Homo sapiens: one gene and its partner. The protein of the gene in region 2 purifies or fractionates together with the protein of the main gene of each other region. This does not show direct contact. Each region holds a gene or a part of one and is shown on either strand. Other genes may lie near its edges.

Region 1 (3,822 bases), on a different chromosome or scaffold from region 2:
AGATATAGAGGGGCAGAAGTCTTGGTTGGTGTGTTTATTTTCTTGAAAATTCTGTTTCTACCTCCTTTTGGAACAAGCTCAGCTTCATGAAGAAGAAATAAAAAGTCTTCCTAAAAGAGGTTTTCCTCAGCTATTGGAAATATTAAATAGAAGTATTTTAAAATGCTATATTTAGTTGAATGCATAGGTTTTTCCCCCTAATAGTATTTTGCTGTTTTTAGATGATGATGTATTAAATGATGAAGAGCTAGACAAGGAATTACTATGGAATCTTCAACTTTTGTCTGAGGTATTGTAAATCTTTGGAATAAGAAACATGACTGTGAAAACACTGACTTGCTTTTAGGATTTAGCTCTTTCTGACAAAATGACTTTAAAACATATGAAAAGTCAGAGTTTTGGAAATTTGATGAGGCTTCAGAAGATCAGAATATGTCATACTCTTATTGTCAAAGGAGTGGTGTAGTTGATCACTGCATGTTCAGCCATCTACTTAGTTTTACCAGTTAATTCTAATATGGGTAACTCATTAATTGAAAAAGTTGATCAGATTTGGGAATTTTTTTGGTCTACACTTTAAATTTGGCCATCAATCAAACTTCAGTTTTCTTTTCTTTTCTTTTCTTTTCTTTTTTCTTCTTTTTGTCTCACTATCGCCCACGCTGGAGTGCAGTGGTGCAATCTCGGCTCACTGCAAACTCCGCCTCCCAGCTTCACGCCATTCTCCTGCCTCAGCCTCCCAAGTAGCTGGGACTACAGGCATCCGCCACCACGCCCGGCTAATTTTTTGTATTTTTAGTAGAGACGGGGTTTCACTGTGTTAGCCAGAATGGTCTCAATGTCCTGACCTCGTGATCCGCCTGCCTCAGCCTCCCAAAGTGCTGGGGTTACAGGTGTGAGCCACCGCGCCTGGCCCAAACTTCAGTTTTCTTTTTTTTGAGACGGAGTCTCGCTCTGTCGCCCAGGCTGGAGTGCAGTGGCACGATCTCGGCTCACTGCAAGCTCCGCCTCCCGGGTTCACGCCATTCTCCTGCCTCAGCCTCCCAAGTAGCTGGGACTACAGGCGCCCGCCACTACGCCCGGCTAATTTTTTGTATTTTTAGTAGAGACGGGGTTTCACCGTTTTAGCCGGGATGGTCTCGATCTCCTGACCTCGTGATCCGCCCGCCTCGGCCTCCCAAAGTGCTGGGATTACAGGCGTGAGCCACCGCGCCCGGCCAACTTCAGTTTTCTTTATCATTTTTTTCAGAAGTTTAATTAGGGCCAGGCGTGGTGGCTCACACCTGTAATCCCAGCACTTTGGGAGGCCGAGGCGGGCGGATCACTAGGTCAGGAGTTAGAGACCATCCTGGCCAACATGGTGAAACCTTGTCTCTACTAAAAATACAAAAATTATCTGGGCATGGTGGCGTGTACCTGTAATTCCAGCTACTTGGGAGGCTGAGGCAGGAGAATTGCTTGAATAGAATAGACTCTTTTGAAAGGGATGTTACTATGGTGCATGAAAGCTTAAGCTCAGAAAATGTGTTTGATTTCAAAAAACAATTAATTATTAGAATGCAGTTAAAGTGACAATCCTAAAATTAATTAAAGTCATTTAGAGAAACACTAGGTTAGTGGCCAAACATTGAACTTTGCATTAATGATTGGTTCTTGTTCTTTTAACCAAAATATCTTCAACTATTTTTTCCCTCCTTTTAGATTACTCGAGTGGATGGAAGGAAGTTGCTTCTTTATAGGGAGCAGCTTGTAAAGATTCTCCAAAGAACCCTACATTTAACCTGTAAGCAGGGTTACACTCTGTCTTGTAACCTTTTGCATCATCTTCTCCGTTCTACCACACTTATCTACCCTACAGAATACTGCAGTGTGCCAGGTGGCTTTGACAAGCCTCCTTCTGAATACTTTCCTATCAAGGCAAGCATTTTCAGTACTTTAGGATTCAAGAATATGTTGATTTTTTGTTTTAAGGGATTCAAAGTGTTATTTTTTCTTGCATATGTTAGTTTTTTACTTTTAAGATAGATTATTGAAACTATTATTGGAATATGTGAAACTTGTGCTGTCTCACTTTGCATGGAACTGAAACTCTAGTTTTCTTTCCTATTGATATGTGAAACAACTTCGTATATATTCCTTATCTAATGTCTATAGTTCAATATAATTTTATTGCTAAACTAAGCCTCACTTAAACTCATCATCACTCTTACAGTATCACTCTTAGAGCAAACTCATATTATAATGAGTACTCTTCGGGGAGACTTTTTTCAGGAGTGATAACGAAGAGGCAGTAAGATGTTGTTTTCATGCTACTTTTTTGTATATCATTTGCTACCTTAGGTTTGGATTATGTGTACATTTTCTTTTAAATTTTAAAAATTGTGTATATGTATGTGGGTTTGTTGTTGTTGTTTTTAATTTCTCAACTTGCTGAGTAGATGCTGTTCTCTTCTAGGACTGGGGCAAACCCGGGGACTTGTGGAATCTGGGAATCCAGTGGCATGTTCCTTCTTCAGAAGAAGTGTCTTTTGCCTTTTATCTTTTGGACTCCTTTCTTCAGCCTGAGCTCGTCAAACTCCAGCATTGTGGGGATGGAAAACTTGAAATGTCTAGGTTGGTTTTATTTTATAATTAGAGTTATTCAGTTGCAGACTAAAGAAGTCTTTTTTGGCTTTATCTGTGGCATATCTCATGTATTAATTTTCAATTGTGTTTTGAAAATCTGCTATACATGTACTTAGAAAATCATTTAATATAATGTTGTATAACAGAAAATTTAACAACATTTAAACATTTTAAACCCAAAAATTGTGGGTTTCTTTTTCTAATTTTTTTTATTACCTTCTACTTAGCAATTTCACTTGTCTTTTGGAAGGTGTGTGTAGATATGCCTCCTTTGAAAGGAATGCCTGTTTTCCTAGACTCAGCTAAGATTTTATTGGGTTCTCAAAATTTTATTTTAAGAATTATTTTTATGAGATTTTTTTTTCCCTCTCCCACAGGTATTTAACAAGAAATAAGTATTTGAAACCATTAGACTTTCATAGTTTGAAAGTTTCTAAAATAATAGCAAGAAAATTAATGTATCAAACACCACAAATTTTTCATAAGCAGATTTAAGAATGCACTTGGAGAAAGAAGTGTGACTGACTAACATCAACTCTGTCGTACTCTGAACTGCTTTTTGGAAGTAAATGTTTAGTCCCATTTTTAAAAGATGGAATAAGCTGGAAGATCTTCTGTAGCATTATTTCCTCTTTTTGTTAGTGGCAGTGGTCTTTGGTAAAGGGATGCTTAAATTAACAGTTGTTTCACAAAGGGCAGTTAATTATTGTTACTTGTGATTTACTTAGAGCCTGTTTAAATGTAAGCAGGCATAGTGTTAGCAATAAATATATATTTAATTGTTCTTCACTGTTAAGTTGGTAAACTGAAGACATTTGCTATTTCTTTACCTTAATCATTTATATCCCCACGTGAGAAAACTTCTGTGCTAGGCTCTAGCAGGCTTATTAAATAGGGATTTGGAAATATGAAAATGTCTTTTTTTTTTTTCTAGAGATGATATTCTACAGAGTCTGACTATAGTGCACAACTGTTTAATTGGCTCTGGAAACCTCCTACCTCCGTTGAAAGGAGAGCCAGTTACTAACTTGTAAGTAAAAATAACTGTTTTCCACTTAACATATATTTTAAGTCTTAGTCACTTAATGAGTTATTGGTTTGTTGTTGTTATTGCTTTTATTTCTGTATCACTTTAACCTTTTTATTTGTCACTGTTAAGGTCAAAAATACCAGAGGTACAATTTAGATTTATAAACC
Region 2 (3,822 bases):
TATAGTTGAATATACCTGTTTCTAAGGAATAAGTACTTGGAAAATGTCCTTCCAATTATGTAAGAACCACCCTCCTACCTGTGCTTTGGATTCTATCCTGTTACATTACTTCAGGAAAATCCCTTTATCAATGATGCCTTCTCAAGCTGATATCTTTAACCCCTCTCTGCTTGCTCTGTCTCAGCAGTAGCATTTGAACCGCTGTTGTCTTTTAAAACAAAAAAAAATTGTATCAATTTCAAATTCCTTTATAGTAACTTGTCTCTCATTGAGTGTGCTTTTGCTTCTTGAAAAGTTGTCTACATTTGCTTTCTATACTCCTTTCCCTGCTATTTATTTAACCCACTGTTTCTGTCTCCCATGACACCAATGAAACTGCTCCTGAACAATGTGGACATTTTTACCTTCACTTTACTTCATCTCCCTGTAGTATTTGACACTAATAATGGCTTCTTCCTTTTTCCCTTGGCTTTTATGTTTTTACTTTGTATTTATTTTTTTGATACAGGATCTCATTCTGTCATCCAGGCTGGAGTGCAGTGGTATGATCATAGCTCACTGCATCCTCAAACTCCTGGGCTCAAGCAATCCTCTTGCCTCACTCTCCTGAGTAGCAGGGACTACAGTCACTTGCTACCTCGCCTGGCTAGTTTTAAAAATTATGATTTGTAGAAACGGGCTCTTGCTATGTTGCCTAGGCTGGTCCTAAACTCCTGGCCTCAAGCTATCATCCCACCTCCTTGGCTTTTAGAACACCACACTTTCCTGATGTCCTCCTTTCTGAATCCTTGTTCTCAGGTGTCTCTGTGTAGGTTCCATTTGTTTTGCCTGTTTCCTAAAATGCCAGTTTTGTTAGTGCCCCATCTCTAGTCCTTTCCTGACCCTATTTCCTACTTGTTGCTTTAGTTATCAATTATATGTTGATGATTCCAACTGGGCGTGGTGCCTCACACCTGTAATCCCAGCACTTTGGGAGGCCAAGGTGGGTGGATCACTCAAGCTCAGGTGTTCAAGACCAGCCTGGGCAACATGGCAAAACCCCATCTCTACAAAAAAAAATACAACAAATGTGCCAGCCGTGGTGGTGCACACCTATAGTCCCAGCTACTCAGGAGGCTGAGGTGGGAGGATCATTTGAGCCTGGGAGTCGGAGGTTGCAGTGAGCCGAGATCGTGCCACTACACTCCAGCCTAGGTGACAGAATGAGACTCCGTCTCAAAAAATAAAATATGTTGATGACCCCCAAGTTACAATTCTCATGAGCTATAAACCTATAGGCTTTTCCAATTGGAAAGCCCAATTGGAAGTCCCACAGGCACCTCCAGTTTTACATGGACAAGTACAGAATAACTCATAATCCCATAATCCCCCACATACTCCTTATCCCATATGAATAGGTTTCTGCCTAAGGCAGAAATTGGATAATTAGCCTTGGTTATGTCACCTAGCACCCATCCTAACCTCTTCCCCTGCTCCCCCAAATCATTCAGTTTATTACTTGCTCTCCCCACCATTGCTACTATGCTGGTCCTTGCCCCTGTCAGACTTCATCTGGATTACTGCAACACTCATCCCTGCTGCCCCTCCAATCCTTGTTAAGACTCTAATCAGAATAATCTTTGTAAAACACAGATTTGATTATGTCATTCCCCTCACTTTACCCTCTAAATAAAAATAAAACCCAACACTTAGTGTGGCTCTGTCCATGAATTGGCTCCTTGCTTCCCACCACACTTCTTATCCTCTTAAACTACTTGCAGTTTCCTAATTCATTAAGTTCTTTCACTGTTAGGCGTTTGCACACATTTCTCCTACTGGTGCAGATTCCTTTCTCTGACCTAGCTAAATTGTCTTTTTCAATAAATTTCTATTGGCCGAGCTGGGTGGCTCATGCCTGTAATCCCAGCACTTTGGGAGGCCGAGGCAGATGGATCACCTGAGGTCAGGAGTTCGAGACTAGCCTGGCCAACATGGTGAAACCCCGTCTCTACTAAAAATACAAAAATTAGCCAGGCCTGGTGGCATGTGCCTGTAATCCCAGCTACTCGGGAGGCTGAGGCAGGAGAATTGCCTGAACCCAGGAGACAGAGGTTGCAGTGAGCCAAAATCACACCATTGCACTCCAGCCTGGGCGACAAGAGCAAAACTCCATCTCCAAAAAAAATAATAATAAGATAAATTCTACTAATACTATCAATTGTATTTGGCTAAGTCATTCTGGAAGCTACTCGTTTTCCAAAGATAAAGCTCTTAAAAAACATGGTTTTGAGTAACCTAGGGTTGAATCTTGGCTTAGCCATCTACTAGTCTTAAGAACTTGAGTAAGCTGGAGAGCTTTCTGAACCTTAGATTTTTTAATTTAATGTGAAATAAGGAGAACAGTAAGAGTAGCATAGGATTATTCTGAAGATTAAATGAAATCACATGTTTGGCACAAAATTGTTAGCTTCCCTTTTTATTTTCCTCTTACTCAGATTTCAACTACAGATTGCTCAAATTCTGGATTTAAGTTTTTAATACTATTTGATCCAAATATCTTTGCCCAGAATTCTCTGTCTTTTTTTTTTTTTTCTTATCTCTATACTTTTGCAGTTTTGGGTTGTCAAGATGTATAACAGCTGCCTGCTCCTCCCTGCTTTTGATGCATTCTTAGGACTGTACTCTGATCTAACTACCAGACCCCTTGCTGTCTGGTTTAATTTACAGGTTCCTATTTTTGTTTCTTCCTCTTCCTCCCACTTCCTTTTTTTTTTTAGGTTTGACAATCTAGAGAAATTTTTCCACACTATAAAGATTTTAAATATCTCTATGGAACATTAGTAATTGAAAATAATATATTTAGTCTGGATACATTTTGTTGGGGGTGGGGGGAATGTGAGAAACTGCCCTCTTAGATTCTAACGGTGTGATTATCTTTAAAATACTACTATCATTTAGTCAAAGACCACCTATTTTGGTAGTCTGTGGGAATATCAAAAATTATCTGCATTAGCTGGGCTTGGTGACATGGACCTGTAATCCCAGTTTTAGTGGGAGGATCACTAGAGCCCAGGAGTTTGAGACCAGCCTAAGCAACCTATTGAGTTGGACTTTCTTCAGGAATTTGATCATCCTACATGTATCAGGAATGAGGCGTGATGTTAAGCTCTGGGATTTTGCATTTCATTACATGGTATATGCCGTAGTTTTCCTGAGCAGAAGCAAAGCCTCAAAATACATGCACACCAGGTAGGATTATTGTTAATGAAAAGTATAATTTCAGTGTCTTTACAACTTAGTTTGTGTCTAAAATATGAACTAGTGTTTTTTTCCACTTGTTAAATTGATCTTGTATTTGGTTTTGCGAATTTTCAAACAAAGAATAAAGAACATGAAATTAGACTATATATTCTGTCATTTTCCCCTGAGTTTTTTCTAATCTTGTCCCTTCATACTTTTCCCCAAAGGTTCAGCGTCTTCCATTTCTTTCAAGCTCAAATCTTTCACTGGATGTTTTGAGGGGTAATGATGAGACTATTGGATTTGAGGATATTCTTAATGGTAAGTGTCATTCAGCACCTTTTTATGGAGCCCTTGTAATTTAAAAGGCAAACAGCTGCAAAAAGAATAGGCAAAATTCTTGTCCTCATGGAACTTACAGCTGATTGGGTTCACTTTATTCATTGCATTAAGATAAAGTTTAATGGTAGTAACTGTTCTTTAACTGTTTTTAAAAGTGAAGATTGGCTGGGTGCGGTGGCTCACGTGTAATCCCAGCACTTTGGGAGGCCGGGGTGGGCAGATCACCTCAGGTCAGGTGTTTGAGACAAGCCTGGCCAACAT

The links.
Region 1: the proteins of POMP (region 2) and PSME4 fractionate together in Homo sapiens (co-fractionation; one large-scale study listed by IntAct). This does not show direct contact.

What each region holds. Positions count from the first base shown.
Region 1 is NC_000002.12:53,918,984-53,922,805, reverse strand, and holds part of PSME4 (proteasome activator complex subunit 4), read left to right. Parts: intron 1-221; coding exon 222-289; intron 290-1,701; coding exon 1,702-1,917; intron 1,918-2,455; coding exon 2,456-2,613; intron 2,614-3,559; coding exon 3,560-3,655; intron 3,656-3,822. UniProt on the Homo sapiens protein: Associated component of the proteasome that specifically recognizes acetylated histones and promotes ATP- and ubiquitin-independent degradation of core histones during spermatogenesis and DNA damage response.
Region 2 is NC_000013.11:28,668,893-28,672,714, forward strand, and holds part of POMP (proteasome maturation protein), read left to right. Parts: intron 1-3,446; coding exon 3,447-3,540; intron 3,541-3,822. UniProt on the Homo sapiens protein: Molecular chaperone essential for the assembly of standard proteasomes and immunoproteasomes. Degraded after completion of proteasome maturation. Mediates the association of 20S preproteasome with the endoplasmic reticulum.